Linked DNA regions of Homo sapiens: region 2 is linked to region 1. The links come from fine-mapping of genetic effects on gene expression. A gene starts in region 1. The other region holds a variant in brackets. All regions are shown on one strand. Distances are from middle to middle.

Evidence for each region. PIP is the estimated chance that this variant, and not a neighbour inherited with it, causes the effect.
Region 2: its variant is fine-mapped to the expression of XPC-AS1 in whole blood (INTERVAL, PIP above 0.99).

The regions. Positions count from the first base shown.
Region 1 is chr3:14,144,607-14,152,833 of GRCh38, forward strand. XPC-AS1 (XPC antisense RNA 1) reads left to right here and starts at 4,956. Exons shown (of 2, transcript XR_001740603.2): 1 at 4,956-4,996; 2 at 5,236-8,227. It overlaps XPC (XPC complex subunit, DNA damage recognition and repair factor), which reads right to left. Exons shown (of 16, transcript NM_004628.5): 11 at 7,729-7,810; 12 at 4,208-4,342; 13 at 3,956-4,125; 14 at 3,302-3,395; 15 at 2,684-2,773; 16 at 541-1,553. The coding sequence ends at 1,335. RefSeq lists enhancers at 174-283, 3,947-4,631, 6,249-6,749.
Region 2 is chr3:14,172,828-14,181,211 of GRCh38, forward strand. XPC (XPC complex subunit, DNA damage recognition and repair factor) reads right to left here and starts at 5,774. Exons shown (of 16, transcript NM_004628.5): 1 at 5,639-5,774; 2 at 40-235. The coding sequence starts at 5,741. It overlaps LSM3 (LSM3 homolog, U6 small nuclear RNA and mRNA degradation associated), which reads left to right and starts at 5,990. Exons shown (of 4, transcript NM_014463.3): 1 at 5,990-6,054. The coding sequence starts at 6,034. RefSeq lists a silencer at 5,414-5,533 and enhancers at 5,584-5,933, 6,034-6,083. The variant G/A (reference allele first, on the strand shown) is at 3,996.

The DNA of each region.
Region 1 (8,227 bases):
CCTCTATAGGAGGGCCGAGCTCTGGTGAGGAAGTGTGAGACCAGTTTCCATAGCAACCCCAGTCTGTTTCTCAACAAGAGGTTCCAGCCAGCCTCTTGCCACATATGAGTCATAACTCAAGTGTTTTGTTTGTTTCCCTTGGATAAAAGTGACTCCGATTTTTAATGGCTCCTCTCAAAGATTAACATCTCTTCACTAAATACAGAAGAATTCCATATGTAATGAATTTCCAGCCTCCATGAAAACAAAATGGACTCTTTCATGCTGTCTCAACATATGAATACATTGCTCTGTCACCTGGGTGTTATTACCGACTTAAATCTGAAAGAAGCTGGGCACGGCAGTGGTGTGTGGGTGCCTGCAGTCCTGAGGAGCTGGGACTGTTTCCCGAACAATGCCTTTCCACCACACACGGTGGTTGTGAGGGCCAGCTGAGGCAAAGCCCTCAGGAAGACCACTCAAGCCCAGGAGTCCAGCCTGCGCAAGACAGTAAGACCCCTTAAAAAAAAAAAAATCTGAAAGAAAATATAGAGCCAAATCTTTAGATAAATGCTTTATTATTTTCTCAAAATGTTATAAAAGTCATTTCTCCTTAGTACAGAGAGCTTTATACATTTTATCTAGTAATGAATACAATCTAGTTTAACACTCATCTATTTTACTAACATTTCCTTAATTTTCAATTCGTATTTTTCCTTTTCTTTCCTGATTTTAGCTTTTTTTAGGCTTCTGTCACCACAAAATGTTACTTGGAAAACTAGATCCCAGCAGATGACCTGTACTTCTCTGCTCTCTCCCCTACTGCAAAGAGGCAGTGAGGGCAGCATTAGTAAGCCTGACTCAGGGGAAGGTAAGTGGCCTGCAGAGAAATGGTCCTAGGTCCGCAACCGAGGCGAGTGAACTTGTCGGACAGATGAAGACTCTAACTGGAAGAAACGATCAGCGCATTCACGGATGCACCACCATCCAGAAATCTCCCGGTGGCTTCCATACAAAAACTGATGTTTCTAAAGATGGAAAGAACAGGTCTAGGAGGCAGAAGAGTATCTCCTAGCAAAGTGTTCTGTAGCTCAAAGGGTGAGTGGGCTTTGGTAGCAAAAAGCTTTGAAGGCTTCACCCTGGGTGAATCTGACAAGGGCTGGAGCCAGACGGGACCTGCAGCACCTCCTCAGCTTGGCCTCGTCTCCCCTGACCCCGCCTCCGTGCATGCTGCCTCAGTTTGCCTTCTCAGCAGAGAAGCCCCCACCACCAGGGGCTGGGCATGCCCAGGGCAGGTGTGGGGCCTGTAGTGGGGCAGCAGCAACTGGTGGGTGCCCCTCTAGTGGGCGCTCAGCTCACAGCTGCTCAAATGGGAACAGGTGGGAAGCTGCTGCTTTCTTTTCCCTTTTGGTCTTCTTGGGCCCACCCTTCAGCTTCTGCTTTTCTTCATCTTCTCGGTTTTGAGGCCAGGAGGCAGCCAGTATCCTGGCCGCTTCTGCTTGAGAGCTGGTCCCCTCCTCTTCATCAGAAGAGAGTCCACCTCCTGCATCTGTGTGGGGAGCTGCTGCCTCACTCTGGACAGGTGGCAGTGGTGGGAGGACACAGGCGAGGGTTAGTAATCAGATACCAGGAAGCCCCATGAAGAGGCAGCAAGTTCCCAGCCTGCCCTAAGCTGTGTAACTCTGGGAGGACAAGGGCATGGGACAGGGCAGGGAGAGAGCCCAGACCCTTCTTACTGAGCCGTCCCAGCCTGGGGTGCATCCAAGCAGACACTGGAGCACCTGCTACGAGCTGAGTGCAGGGGAACACAAGGATGATGGCTGGGCAGGAAGCTGCCCTCTAGGAGCACACTGCCTCATCTGGGGATGCCTGTGATTCGTGCCTTGCATTTGCTACCTCATTTCTGGACCAAAGCACATGATGTCTTGAACGGGCAAGATGCACAGTTCAGCCCTCGGAGCCCTAAGATCTGAGGCGGCACTCCCTGCCAGCTGGGATGGCTAGGGAGGGTTTGGATGGAGAAGGCGGCAAGGAGCTGGTCAGAACATAAAGTCAGATGAAGGGCTTTTCTCCACCAGAGGGACTGGAATGAGGAGCGTGACAAAAAAATGTTGAAAGGCAAACAGGCAGCACAGAGGGTTGGAGAGAGGGAACAAAACATGCCAGAGCAGTTTCTGCTGTGTCTGACACAGCACTGACTATACCATGTAACTGGGCCTAGGGTCCATCTGCCCCAGGGAGGGGCCCCCTTGAGGGCTGCATGTCAAATTCACACCTGTGTCCAAGCCTGGCCTGGCACATGGCAGGTGCTGTGAGAGAGGTACTGAGCGGGCCACTGCAGGCCTGCAGCATGGTCACAGGCACTGGGAACACTGGAAGGCGGAAGGGTGCACCAAATGCAGGACACTTGGCCCTCCCTATGTGTTCAGCGCCAAATCAGACCCATGGCATTGCTCATGTGGACAGTAGAAACGGGGACACTGGGACAGGGCTTGGGGCAGAAGAGCCAGCTGAGGCCTCACTCCAGGGACACCTTTCCCAACAAGGTAAAAACAAGCGGCCTTAGAGACAGAAGACTGAGGTGTCCTAACACAAAGCTATCCCTGACTTGAGGCTGGGGCAGAATCTGGGCCAGGCCTTTCTGAGCTGCATCTCCAAGAAACTGACCCTGAGCTTGTCTTCTCTGCAAAGAACCTGCACTGACCTTGGGCCCGTAGCGACGCTTCAGCCTCTCCCTGATGAGCAGACCTTTGGCCAGCAACTTCCAGTTCCCTAGAGCCCGCTTCTCCTTTTTCTGCAGGCAAAAATGAAGTGGGAGAAAAGTGTTAAGCACTGACATTTTCAGGAAAAATATTAAGATGGAAACTGTGAATGTAAAGACAGATATATACACCACTTTAGAATATAGCCTCTCCTTCACACCAAGTCTCACTTCCAAAAAATTGATCTGATTTACAAAGTGATATACTATACCTGAAAGCCACAAAAACAGATAACTTTTTAATCGTTACTGACTCCAAAATCTTTAGTGGGTGAGGTCTTCCAGAACCTGGACACAGGCAATTCAAGACAGAGGCAGGTGTGGGCAGCAGGGGCAGTAGACCCCAGAGCCCGGACCCAGGCTCCTCAGGGACAGTGATAGTCTGCGGGGTGGGCAGGAGCCTGCTGTATTCAGTGCTCGCTCCCTCGGGTGCCTGCCATGATGTCAGAGAGGGCTGGGAAGAGCCTGGGAGCACACGGAGGCGGCCTGGGGAAGGAAGAGGCCACCCGCTGAGTGTTGCTTCCCGCTTCTGCTGTCCCTCAGTCCTGCATATGCGCTTACCTCCTTCTCCTTCCTTTCAATGACTGCCTGCTCATTTTCCCAGGCAGTCAGGAGCACGTCTTTGAATTCCTCGCAGACGATGTATCCATCAGTCCTGTGGGGACACAACGCGATGTCAACCCTCGAACCTGCTGCCTGCTCTGCCTCTCCTCCCTCCCCAGTTTGTGGAAGACAGTGGGCCACATCTGAGCACTAGGGGTCCTGAAGGATGTCGCGGGTCAGCCAGTGTCCCACATCCTCCGTGCAGAAGGCAGGCCTGTGGAAGCTGGCACTGCCTCTTCCTCCCCAGATTCTGCCGAAGAAAGCTGGGGTGAAAGCCCCTATCCAGCCTCACCCATCATGGAACAGAGCTCACTAACCAGGCAGCTGCCGGGGAAAGATGCTGACTGTTTTTTGCTCACTAGCCTGTGAGTCCCTAAACCTGGGAAGAACGTTTTAATCCAGCATTACGATGCCAGTTTCATTGGCTCCGTTCCCTCTGGAGGGAAGCCAGAATTGGTAAAGCACTGACTTTGCAAATCCAGTGTAACATCCTGAAAATTGGAGCCACCAGGCCTCAACTCCCAGCAGCCCCATGCCAGCTTTCCATCCCCATCTCTGGAGCCACCCCTCCCCATCCCTGTGTTTAGCCTCCATCGAAGGCCCCTCACGCACACGGGATGGGAGTAGCCGCCATGGAAATCAAAGCCAGTGATGGCCTGGACACAGTCGATGTCCAGCTTGCGGGCCACGCGGTGTAGATTGGGCAGGTTCAGCTGGACACAGCCAATAGGCATCATGCTGGGCAGGAAGAGGTACACATTCCCAAACTCGTTCCGGGGCACCTGTGTCGGGTGAGCAAGTCAGCATTTGGCCAGCAGGGGAACAAGGCGGCCTGGTCCTGAGCCCTTCTGATGCTGCCCTTACCTTCCCGTCCACGGCCACTGGGGGCTGATACTCCTCTGTCTGCCAGTAGCCAAACAGGCCCAGGTCATTTTCTTCCCGCAGCTGGGGCTCAGCAAGTCGGGCTTTCCGAGCACGGTTAGAAAAGCCTTTCACCATCTGCACCAGAGGACACGGCCACCGTTTACAACAAAGGCATCCAGTTCCTCAGCACCGGGCCAGGCACCATGCTCAGTGCCGCATGCCTGGTACCTGGTGAACCCTCAGAACACACCTACCAGCTGGGGTGCTTTTTCTCCCTTTTTTTTTTTTGAGACAGAGTCTCGCTCTGTCGCCCAGGCTGGAGTACAGTGGTGCAATCTTGGCTCGCTGCAACCTCTGCCTCCTGGGTTTAAGCAATTCTCCTGCCTCAGCCTCCTGAGTAGCTGGGATTACAGGTGCCTGCCACCACGCCCGGCTAATTTTTGTATTTTTAGTAGAGACGGGGGTTTCACCATGTTGGCCAGGCTGGTCTCGAACTCCTGACCTCAGGTGATGCACTCGCCTCAACCTCCCAAAGGGCTGGGATTACAGGCGTGAGCCACCGTGCCCGGCTGCTCCCCTTTTCTTACTACAAGCACTAGCTAACATTTATGGAACATTCTCTGTCCCAGACACTATTCTCGGTGTTTTTTGTTTTTTTATCCCCCTGAGACGGAGTCTCACTCTGTTGCCCAGGCTGGAGTGCCCTGGTGTGATCTCAGCTCACTACAACCTCCACCTCCCGGATTCAAGTGATTCTCGTGCCTGTCTCCTGAGTAGCTGGGACTACAGGTACCCGCCACCATGCCCAGCTAATTTTTATATTTTTGGTAGAGATGGGGTGTCACCATATTGGCCTGGCTGGTCTCAAACTTCTGACCTCAAATGATCCACCTGCCTTGGCCTCCGAAAGTGCTGGAATTACAGGCATGAGCCACTGCGCCCAGCCTATCTTCAGTGCTTTATATGTTATTATTTAATTTTTTCAACAAACCCACAAGGTAGGTCTTATTATTGTTTCCATTTTACAGATGAACACCACAGACGGGGTAAATGATTTGCCTAAAGTCACACAGCTCGTAAGGGCCAGAGCCCACACTTTCATCCACTAGCCTATATTCTGTGCTGTCATCACTGATAGCAGTGACTGAGACTGAGAGACAAAGTCACTTAAGAGCTGATGGCTGGTAAGTGACAAGAACCAGGATTTACAATTCAGGTAACTGTCCATCAGTAGAGCCTGTGTCTCAACATATAACCTATGTCTGCTCACACGCCCTAGAAAGCACTGACAGTTCAGGACTCCCAGTGTGCTCCCCAACAGCGTGCAGTGGCCAAGGCCAAGATCTTCCCTGGGGAGTGAAGTGGTGAGAGGGGCGCAGGACAGGCAAGGACAGAGTCACGTAACTCTTAGAGGAGTCAGGCATGGGCGTGCGGCTGAGGGCTGGCCCCTGGGCCTCAGCATACAGACTTCCTCTAGTGCAGGGGCCCACAAGCTTGTTCTGTAAAGGGTCATGCGTGGCCTCCATCACATATTCTTTATTCTTCTCATTCTTATAACCCTTTAAAAATGTGAAAAGCCATTCCCCAGGTTGGGGGTGGCCTGCGAGCTCTCATGTCCATTCCTGCCATGATCTCTGGGCGCACCCTCTCTGTCACCACTTCAGGGACAGAGGGACTCTGAGTTCTGACAACCGTCCCTTTCTGAGAAGCCATTCACCCAGCACACTGTTCAGTAAACTTCCACTGGGATCTCCTGGAGACCAGGCCATGACCCAGTCATGAAGGAGGGATGGAGCGAGGACAGTCTTTGCTCTTAGGAGCTCAGGCTCCTGCAGGGGAAGAGACAGAGCTACGACTCAGCGTGATGAGTACAGGGTGGAACAGGAGCTCAGAGGCAAGCCATTGCCCAGCCCTGAGGACAGTGGAGGCAAGAAAGGCTGCTCAAAACAGGTCCCGCCTGAGCAGAGGCTTAAAGGGGCAAGGGGTTGCCCAAGAGAACAGGGCTGGACCCCACAGGGCACAGAGGTGGGAGAACACTGGGACCTGGGGCCTAAGTCCTCTGGAATGCAGAGGCAGTGAGCACCAGAACATCACTGTGCACCATGGGGAGGGTGCGGGACTCAGACTAAAGGCGCTGGCCAAGGTGGGACAAGGATGGCCAAGATGCACAGAAAGAGCCTAGTGACTGACAGGGGAATGGATTCAGGCTGGGAAGGAGGCTGTGGCTGTTGCCCAAGCAAAAGATACTGAGGCAGGAGCTGGGGTGGTGGGGATCAGAACAAGGGGTGAATTTGAGAGATTTGGGATTCCAGAACTGTGCTACCATGACAGCCACCAGTCACGTGTGGCCACTGCACACCTGAAACGTGGCTGGTCTGAACTAAGGTACAGAAAGTCAAATACACAGAAGATTAGAGAGACTTAGGAACAAAATGGATTTAAATATCTCATCAACACTTTAAAATATTTCTTACTGCTGAAATAGTATTTTAGATATATCTGGATATATTTTAATGTTAAAATTCCACCTGTTTTTGGTTTTTAATGTAGCTACTAAAAAATTTAAATGTGTGGCTCACGTTACATTTCAACTGAACACTGCTATGCTGGTTCCAGCACAAAAGACAGGTGAGATGGTGCAGAGAAAATCCTCAGCAACCCTGCAGGCCCAGGCAGGGGGCATCGCCCACTCCAGCCTGCTGCTGGCAGTGACTGTGACCAGCGCCTGCAGCCTTTCCCACTAAGCGGAGGCCCCTCCACTCCCCACTCAGCTTCCCGGAGTCTTGCAACCCCCAAGGACTCCTGGGGTCTGATGAGAAGTAAATGGTCTCTGTGATCAGCCACTGTACACTTCCGGTCGTACGGAGCTGTGTGTCCTGTGAATAGTCTCTGTGGGACCTCGCTCGGTTCGTGTTCCTCAAGAGCAACCAGCCTAACAGTGCCGCAGCACAGTGTGAAAGGAGCACTGGCTTTAAGGCAGAGCCTGGGATTCTCACCTGGGCTCTGCTCTGCCATTTTACTAACTGTGGGGACTTGGACAAGTCACTTGCCCTGAGCTTCAGTTTTCTCATCTGTAAAATGGGCATCATAATGCCAATTCCTATGGCTTTTGAGGCAACAGAGATCACATACATGCAAAATGCTCAGTGAACTGCCAAACAGAAGGGCAATCTGACTGGAGAACGTGCTGCTATAAAGCAGGGCTCTGACCTCCCAGGACCCAGTAACTCAATTCCAACCTGTAGAACCTTTGAATTCACAACAGGAGTCTGAGGCCTACTTTTTGGCCTAGATTTCTTTTGTGTTTTGGAAGATCCATTTCTTACAAATGTCTTATTAATAAGACAATTTAAATGTTTCTCTCCTCCTTGAATCCTGCTCAAGCCGGGAAAGTGAGACATTTCTGATCAGGATCCTGGGCAGGACTGGGAGGCTCATCATCACTTCTCTGCCCCCAGCTCTCCCGCTCAGCTACAGGCCTGTGTCACCACTCCCCACAGGGACCCCCCAGCTCCAGTTACCTTGTAGGGTACTTCTCCAAGCCTCACCACTCTTGCTTTCTTCAGCCACGTGTCCCTGGAATGCAGAGTGTGCACACAATCCCTGTGGAACCAACACAGGACACAAAGGTAACTCAGTCCACAGCCCCACTGCGGGAATGCGGGACAGTGGAGAGCGCAGCCCTGCAGGCTCCCTCCTCAGGTTCAGCCACCCTGGAGCAGGCCGAGCTCCTAGGGGGCCCAGAGAAGCTGTGCTAGGCAAACAGCCTTGAACGTGGACTGCCTGTCTTTTGGGGGATGTGTCCACTTACAAACCCTAATCTGCAGCCTTTGTGCCTTGCCTCCACCACTCCTCCCCTTCATAGGTTTTCTTCTCCTCTGCTGTCCAGAGCCTGTGAGAGCTCCAGCTGCAGACTATCAGGATGGGGTAAAGGCCGCTGTGCGCAGGCACACTCACGTTTACTACCACCACCAAGCGAACACCTGCTGAGGCTCTGATCTGCTGTTAACACCATGTGGG
Region 2 (8,384 bases), 28 kb after region 1:
AAAATCAAGACCCGAGACAAAGCTTTGCAGACATCTCACCTGAGGTCATCCCCATCGCTGAGGGCTTCATCCTTTATAACCTTGAGGTTTTCAGATTTAACAGTCACCTTGGCCACTTTCTTTTTTGCTGGACCATCTGCTGAACCCCCAGGATGACTGCAGCCTCTTTTCCTCTTTCCTTGTGAAACTTTGGAGAGAAGGCTCTTCTTTGGGGGTTTCTCATCTTCAAAGGCATCTAGGTGACAACACAGAACATAAGGTGAGGGGTGGAAGGAAAGGTGGAGGCAGTGCAGCTTATGGGCAGGGGCATAAAACGGCTCTATGACCTGTCTCCAAACCCCATCTCCATCACTGGTTCACCATCCCCTGTCTGGTCAGCAACCAGCTCTCAGCTTCTTCCCACCTGCGGCTAGTCTATATTCACAGTAAAAACCATCTTCCTTTATCAGCACTTTACTTCTCCTATGACTACAGAAAATACCATAGGACTCAAATAAAACCTAACTTCCAGATCTTAAATGTCAGCTAACCTCCTGCCAGGAAAATACAACATCCATTAATTAGCACCTTATTTATTATCTGCCAAAATTAATTGTCTTAGGGATAATGTACTCCTAAGTAAAATGTTAAGTACATAAACATGTCCAAGTTTTACCACAACATCATTACTATTAATCTACATTTCTGCCAACCTTCAAGACCAAACTGCTCAAAACACATACTGCTCTGAAACCTTTCCAATGTAACCCAAATGGCACTCATATACCAACCACCTCAGCAAACTTACAGTTGGAAAAAGACAGCAATAATTCAAAAGTATTTTCTTAAAGTAATTATTTTTTTGTTAAAGGGAAATAAAAAATGCATAAGCTGCTGGTTTTAGTCAAATTGGGGTATCTAAAATTATGGTTTATTTACATATAATAATTATATTAATAGATTAGTTTTAACAAATAATATGGCAGGGAAGGATAGTTTTCTATTTTGCAAATATATTCACACAAATTATCTTGAATCTGAAATAAATCTTTTGTCTTTGCATGACTCTGCTTCAATTAATTTTAGAAAATAAAAATACTCTACCTTTTATTGAGGTTCCAAAAGGGATTGCAATATTAACCTAAAATATAAAATTATTTAATAATTCAGTCTTTTCATTGTTTGTCTTGCTGACTCTCTGGATGGGTATTTATATTCCACAAGAATATACTTTTGCATGAGGGAAAAAAGACTCTCCCTTCTGATCTAAATGAAATCATGATTAAATGTTAATAAAATTCATAACAAAGGAGCATTTATTTTAATGTTAGATCATTGATTCCGTTGTTTCTTTAAATGTTTTATAAAAAAGGAATTTATGCATTCCCATTTTTAAACATTGTATGGAAACCAAAAAATAAGGAAAAATTTTGAAGTACAAATTATTTCAAAATTAATTTTTTCAAATCTGAGAACAGATTGCCTACTCCAAGGCCAGAGGTTGCATAAAGCTTAAGATTTGACAGTTTGAGGAGGGTGCCCCTAAAATCAAGATTTCTGGATCTTACAATGGTAGTTAGCCCTCTAATAATAGGCAAAGATGCTAAACACTTCAATTTCTACTAATCTAAAAAAATGCACGTAGGAGGATACTTCAGAGGCATCACAAACTTTTCTAGTTGGTTAAAAAGCACAGCTTTTATTTCCGTTTGAAGAGAAAGGTAGAGGAGTTAAAAGGGAAAGGGGGATAAAGGAAACACAAAAACTCTGAATCAAAAGGATGTTCATAGTATTCAAAAGCATCTAACAATAATCTGAATGTCCAACCATGAGATAATTGTTAAGTAACTTATGGCAGAGCCACACAACAAAATATAATTGAGTCATCCTTTAAGATAAAGAAAAACGATATATGATGTAATGTTACTCATGCAAAGTTGATTTTACAGTATGCTTTCTGCTATATAAAAAACAGACTAGAAGGAAACAGACCACTATTTCATGGTGGCTATTTCTGGATGGCAGAAATATGGGTGACTTTCTGTTCTCTGCTATTTTTTGGTCCCTAAGCATCTAGAGACTCTTTTCCAGGACTCTCCAAAATCTTGAGTTATCTAATATGCCTAACCAGACTCCTTGAGTTCAGTGTTCTTTCAGTAGGGCAGGAATTACCACTGTGGTCTGCTTGCCCATCTACTGGGATTTAATAAGAACACCGGAGTAAACCTTCCAGCAGCAACTCATAGCACTCAGAATAAAATTCCAACTCCTTAGCTTGGTATCCAAGCTCAGGCCCTTGCTCACTTCTCCTACCCAGCCCCTCGCTCGCTGTGTCCAGCCAACTGGCCAAGTTCATTCCCTCCTAAGAGTGTTTAAACACACTGTTCTCTCTGCCTAGAACTCTTTTCCCCAGAACTTCCTATGAATGGCTCAAAATTACACTAAATGCCTCAAAATGCCACCTCCTTACAAAGGCCTTCCCTGACACTGATTCCCATTTAGCTGCCTCTCCCCCAGCCCCATATAAGTTTGAGGGTTTTTCTTTTCATCTATAGAAGCATTTTCTGCTATGTACCCAAATAAGTTTTATCACAGCAGTCTTAGCACAGGGTGATAGCTCTTATCATCATGTGAATCCGTTTTTTTTTAACTTGTTATCTGCTCTAAGTACCCCTCCCCCCAGATTATAATCATGAGAGCAGGTGCCTCATCTGTCTTGTTCAATATTATCCTAGTACCTGGAACAGTGTGTGAAAATAGTAGGCGCTCAATAAACAGCTGTTGAAGGAATTAATGGATATCACTGAAGGTGTTAACACAGAGAAGAAATGAAAAGAAACCAGAGGTGCTTTAGTAACACAAAGGAAATCATGTGGAAGCCTGTTTTCTTTTCTCCTATTTGTCAAAAGCAGCCAAGTATCACCTTCATTTGCATGTACAGGGGTGCTATTAAAACCTACACTATTACAGTGTTAGCAACTACACTGACAGTCACCAAATTATTGTCATCTGCAGCCCAAACCATACTTGCTAAGTCTATGCTTCCCCACAAAACCACCAAACCACAACAAAGGTTGTAACTCTGCAGATCCTGGAAGCTGCCTTGGGAACTGACTGCTAGCTCCTCTGGCTAGCAGAATAAACTTGGGTGCATCTTTACCTCCGTTTAGGCTGAATGACACCAGCTAGCCCAACTAATTTACCTAACATGGGTAAAGCTAAAGCTCTTGGCTTTATATGCTATCCCACTGAAAACTCACAGCCACCCCGCAAGGCAGTTATTACATTTCACAGAGGAAATTCAGAAGGGCTAAAACATTTGTCCAAAATAATTCACCCAAGTGCATAAAACTAAGAATTGAAGCTCTACCAAGCTGGAACCGAGGTGAAGTGTTGAGCTGGGAAGAATACAGGTAGCATTTCCATCAGATTAAAACCGTAAATTTTTAATTGCCATATATCCAAATTACATTCTGACTAGAATACCGGCCCCTTTTTGTGACCCCTTGCTAAAATACCAACCATCCTTTAAATCACAGATCAAACTACTTCAGAGAGCGTTCCCCGATCACGCCAGTCAAACTTGATTAATCCTTTGGAAGCTACAAAGCCTTGTACCTTCTTCCACAATATTTAGCACACTTTGCCTTGAATGTTTTACATGTAAATGTCATGTCAACACTACTCTATGATCCTCCAAGATATGTTTATCTCTCATGTCACCTCATTCATGTACAGCACATAGTAGATACTCAAAAGATGTTATTTGAATGAGTAAATGAGTGAATAAAATGGAACTCGTAATATTACATATGAGGTAAATCACCTCCTAAGTTTACGAATTATTACCATTTCACTATTTCCTAATGGATGATGAATTTATAACCGGTATAGAAACAGAATCTAGTGTGATAGCCTTTGCCGGTTACCTAGTCTAATCTACCCAGTTTTTTCAGGAGACCCAGAAATTCCTTCTACAGCCTGCATTTTGCAATTATTTAAAATATTTACTAGCC[G/A]GGCGCAGTGGCTCATGCCTGTAATCCCAACACTTCGGGAGGCCGAGGCAAACGGATCACCTGAGGTCAGGAGTTTGAGACCAGCCTGGCCAACATGGCGAAACCCCATCTATACAAAAATACAAAAATTAGCCGGACATGGTGTCAGGCACCTGTAACACCAGCTACTCGGGAGGCTGAGGCAGGAGAATCACTTGAACCTAGGAGGCGGAGGTCACGCCACTGCACTCCAGCCTCAGCGACAGAGTGAGACACTGTCTCGAAAAAAATAAAAAATAAATAAAATATTTATTTAGCATTTAGCCCTACCAATCCACGGGCCCTGCATCCACAGATTCAACCAACCACAGATGAATATATTTCGGGAAAAAAAATACAAATTTAAAAAATACAGCATGACAACTATTTCCATAGTATCCACATTGTATTAGGTATTATTAGTGATCTAGAGATGATTTAAAGTATGTCGGAGGATGTGCATAGGTTACATGGAAACACTAGGCCATTTGATATAAGGTACTTGAGCATCACAGGTTTTAGTATCCGCGGGGTATCTGGGAAGGACCACCTTAGTTTGCTCAAGGAATGTCTAACTTGAGTTTTGAAGAAATAGAAAAAATCAGCCCTGGTAAAAGCCATGGGGGGTTCACTCTAGGCAGAAGGAACATCAAAGGAAAAGACTCAAGGAATAACTTGGCATATTTGAGGAAGAGAAAGGAGGCCAATAAGGAGGGTATCTGGCAAGGAAACAAGTGGTAAGAGAAACAGGAGAGGTAGCAAGAGCCAAAACATGTAGTATCTTGTAGGCCAGGATAAAACAACTGGATTTTAAGCTAAGAGCAATGGAAAACCAAGGGGAGTTTAAAGCAGGAGCAGGGCATGATTTTTTTTTTTTTTAAGATTATTTGGGTTGCTGGATGCAGAGCTGGGAGGCCAGTAAAGAGGAAACTGCAGTCACTCAACTGAAAGGTGATGATGACTTGGACAGGGGCTGTGGTCATGGAAATGAAGAGAAGTGGACAAATTTGAAATACACTCTTGAGGCTGAACTGACTGGACTTGCTGACGGACTGGATGTGTGGACATAAGAAAAAGGTGGGCTTTGCTTTATAACAAGTATTGAGACTGGAAAAACGGAGGAAAGCATAGATTTAAAGAGGAAAACCATGAGTTCTGCATTGCCCATGACAAATGTAAGAAGCCTATCAAATATCCATGAGGGGAAGTCAGGTGGGATCCCACTGTGGAACTCTGGGTGAGACTCAGCTGAAGTTATCATTCGGGAGTCAGCACACTGCATCACTCTACGTCCTGGTCCGTCCGTCTGTCTTCCTGGGACACAAATAACTGCCTTCTCCGAGTTCAACCCTGAACATCTGTATCCTCTGGACAACGGGGAGCGGGAAAAAAGCTACGCAGGAGCTTGGATCGGGCGAAGCTCGCGGGAAACCGCTCTGGGTGCGCAGGACAAAGACGCGGGGACAGCGGGGAGGGCCGGCCGCAGCCTGCCGGGCTGCCCCCACGGCGCGGAACGCGCGCAGCAACCTCCACCAGGCCTCCGCGTCTGGACTCCCGCCCTGCCTCTGGGCCTCCTCCGCCCACCGGCGGCGTCTCCCGCGAAGCCCGCTGGGCCTCGCTCTCACCCTCCTCCTCCTCCTCACGCCGGGCCTTGCTCTTGGCCTTGGATTTCTGGCTGCGCAGTTCGCGTCCCCGCGGCTCCCCGCCGGCCGCGCGTTTCCGAGCCATGTTGCTTGTCTGGGCAAATTCCACTTCGCGAGTGACGCACCCGGCCGCGATGCGCTAGAACGCCGGCCCCGCCCCGAGGCGGTGCGCTTGGCCACGCCCCTTCGTTGGAGGCCTAGTCACGCCCCTAAAGGAAGCTCCACCCCATACCCGTGGCCACTAAAAAACTGCGGGAAGCAGGAAAGAGCACAACAGGTTTCTCTCTATTTCCGGTGTATTGTATCCTCACGTTTCCGGAGATTGACGTTGCTCTTGTGTTCTCGCGAGAGGCGGGAAAGGGCGCAGGGTTTGAAACATGGCGGACGACGTAGACCAGGTAAGTGTATTTTAAGGAGGTCGCTCGAAGGAGCTTCTTGTACTAGGCTGCTTTTTCCAGACTCAGGAAAAATGGCCAGTCGTGCCTCCTCTCTCCAAGTCACCATGGCCTAATCCACCCTGTCCTTTCCGTAACCCCCCCTCCGAATTTTGCCGTAGGCCCTGAGACCTTTTCCTGTTAGAAGCCCACCTGATGACTATTCTCACACTCTTCGCTTCATTTTTTTAAATCTGTAGATTATTATCCTTAGCTACCTCATGGAGCTGTCAGGATTCCAATAGAAAGCCAGGTAATAAAGTTAGGAGTTGTTATCATTAGTGAGCGCAACAATTATTTATTCATTCAGCAGATAGAGTGAACATCAGCTTTGTATGGTTAGGCACTGTTCTAAGGGCCAGGGACACTGACATCGACATATAAGAGATCCTTGCCATTACTTGGAGCTTATATTTGCGAGGAGAACAGATAAAAGTAAATATAAATATGTAAGACTTCCAGGAACTGTGATGTGCTGTGAAGGAAACAAGGAACTGGTATGCAGAATAACAGATGGTCCTAGAAGCTTTTTCACCTGGTCTTTTTCTTCCTCAAATATCTTTGGAGATCATGCCACAACTTAAACTTTCTACTGAAATCTGACCTCCTCAGAGAGGACTTCTGCCCAAATAGCACTCCCGCTACTCTGGTTACCCTGCCTCATTTTTCTTCATAGAGAGTTATTTTTTCATATTAAATGTATGCATCTTTGTTTAATGTGAATCTCTCCCCACTAGAATGTAAATGCCATAAGAGCAGGGATTTTGTTTTGTTCATTCTTTTGTCTTTGGGGTTTAGAACAGTGCTGGAAACACTCAAAAAATATTTGAGTGAATGAGTTAGATGATCAGAGGAAGCCTCTTTGAGAAGCCAATATTTAAAGCTACAGGATGAAAAGAGCAGACAGTGGGCATCCCAGACAGAGGCTTAGGTAGCAGTAGGGCTTTTTCATGTGCATATTCTTACAGTATTATAATTATTTGTATGCCTCTCCACAGTAGAATGAGCTCCTTGAGGGTGGGGATTGTGACTTCTCTATCATTGTAATCTAACAGTTGGTTATCTGATCCTTTAACAAACACTTGTTGAACTGAGGGACATAGGGACCAGTTGAGTTAGGTTATTTTTTTCTCTCATCAGGCCTTTTGAATCTTCAGAGCCTGTTACCAATTCAGTTACCTTCCTCCACTGGCCTTGTGTACTTACTGAAGAAGCTCTCCTTGAATAATCTTTCTAACTCTTAGCGGCTGCAACCATCCCTTCCATGTGGGTGACCCCAAGTCATCCTAGCCCTGACCTCTAAAACCAATGTTTCCAGCAGTTCTGTAATAATATAATATTAATAGGAATCTTTTCTTTTCCTTTTTTTTTCTATTCTTTTCTTTTTTTTGGATGGAGTCTCACTCTATCGCCCAGGCTGGAGTGCAGTGGCGTGATCTCAGCTCACTGCAACCTCTGCCTCCTGGGTTCAAGTGATTCTCCTGTCTCAGCCTCCCAAGTAGCTGGGACTACAGGTGCGTGCCGCCACACCTGGCTAATTTTTGTATTTTTCGTAGAGATGGGGTTTCACCATGTTGGCCAGGCTGGTCTCAAACTCCTAACCTCAGGTGATCTGCCTTTCTCAGCCGCCCAAAGTGCTGGGATTCAAGCGTGAGCCACCACGCCCGGCCAATAGGAACCATTTCTAAATATTAATATTTTCTGTTTTCCTGGCACTGTTTTTAAATGCATTAACTAGTTTAATCCTCATAAGAACCCAGAAAGAAGGTTGTGGCTTTCTCAATTACAAATGAAGAATCTGAGAATTACAGATGGCATGATTTTTAATCTCAGTTCATAAATGTCAGGTCACAGCCAGGAGTTGAACCCGGACTGCCTGACTCCAAAGCCAGTGCTTGCTTGCCTTTTTTTTTTTTTTTTTTTTTTTTTTTTTTTTTTTTAAAAAAAAAAAAGACAAGAGTCTCACTCTGTTGCCCAAGCTGGAGTGCAGTGGCACGATCTTGGCTCACTGCAACCTCCACCTCGCCAGGCTCAAGCAATCCTCCCACCTCAGCCCTTGGAGTAGCTGGGACTACAGGCATGTGCCACCATGCCCGGCTAAGCCAGTGCTTTCAACCAGTGTTCTATACTGGCTACTAAATATATTTATCTTATTCACCAGTTGGCAGCCTAAACTCAACCTGTGCTGAATTCATAATCTTCCCATAAACCTACACCTCTATTTGGCATTCTGACTAGTGTATGGTAGGCATTAAGTGAGTGTTTTTCCAATGATTACATAATATTTGAGATAA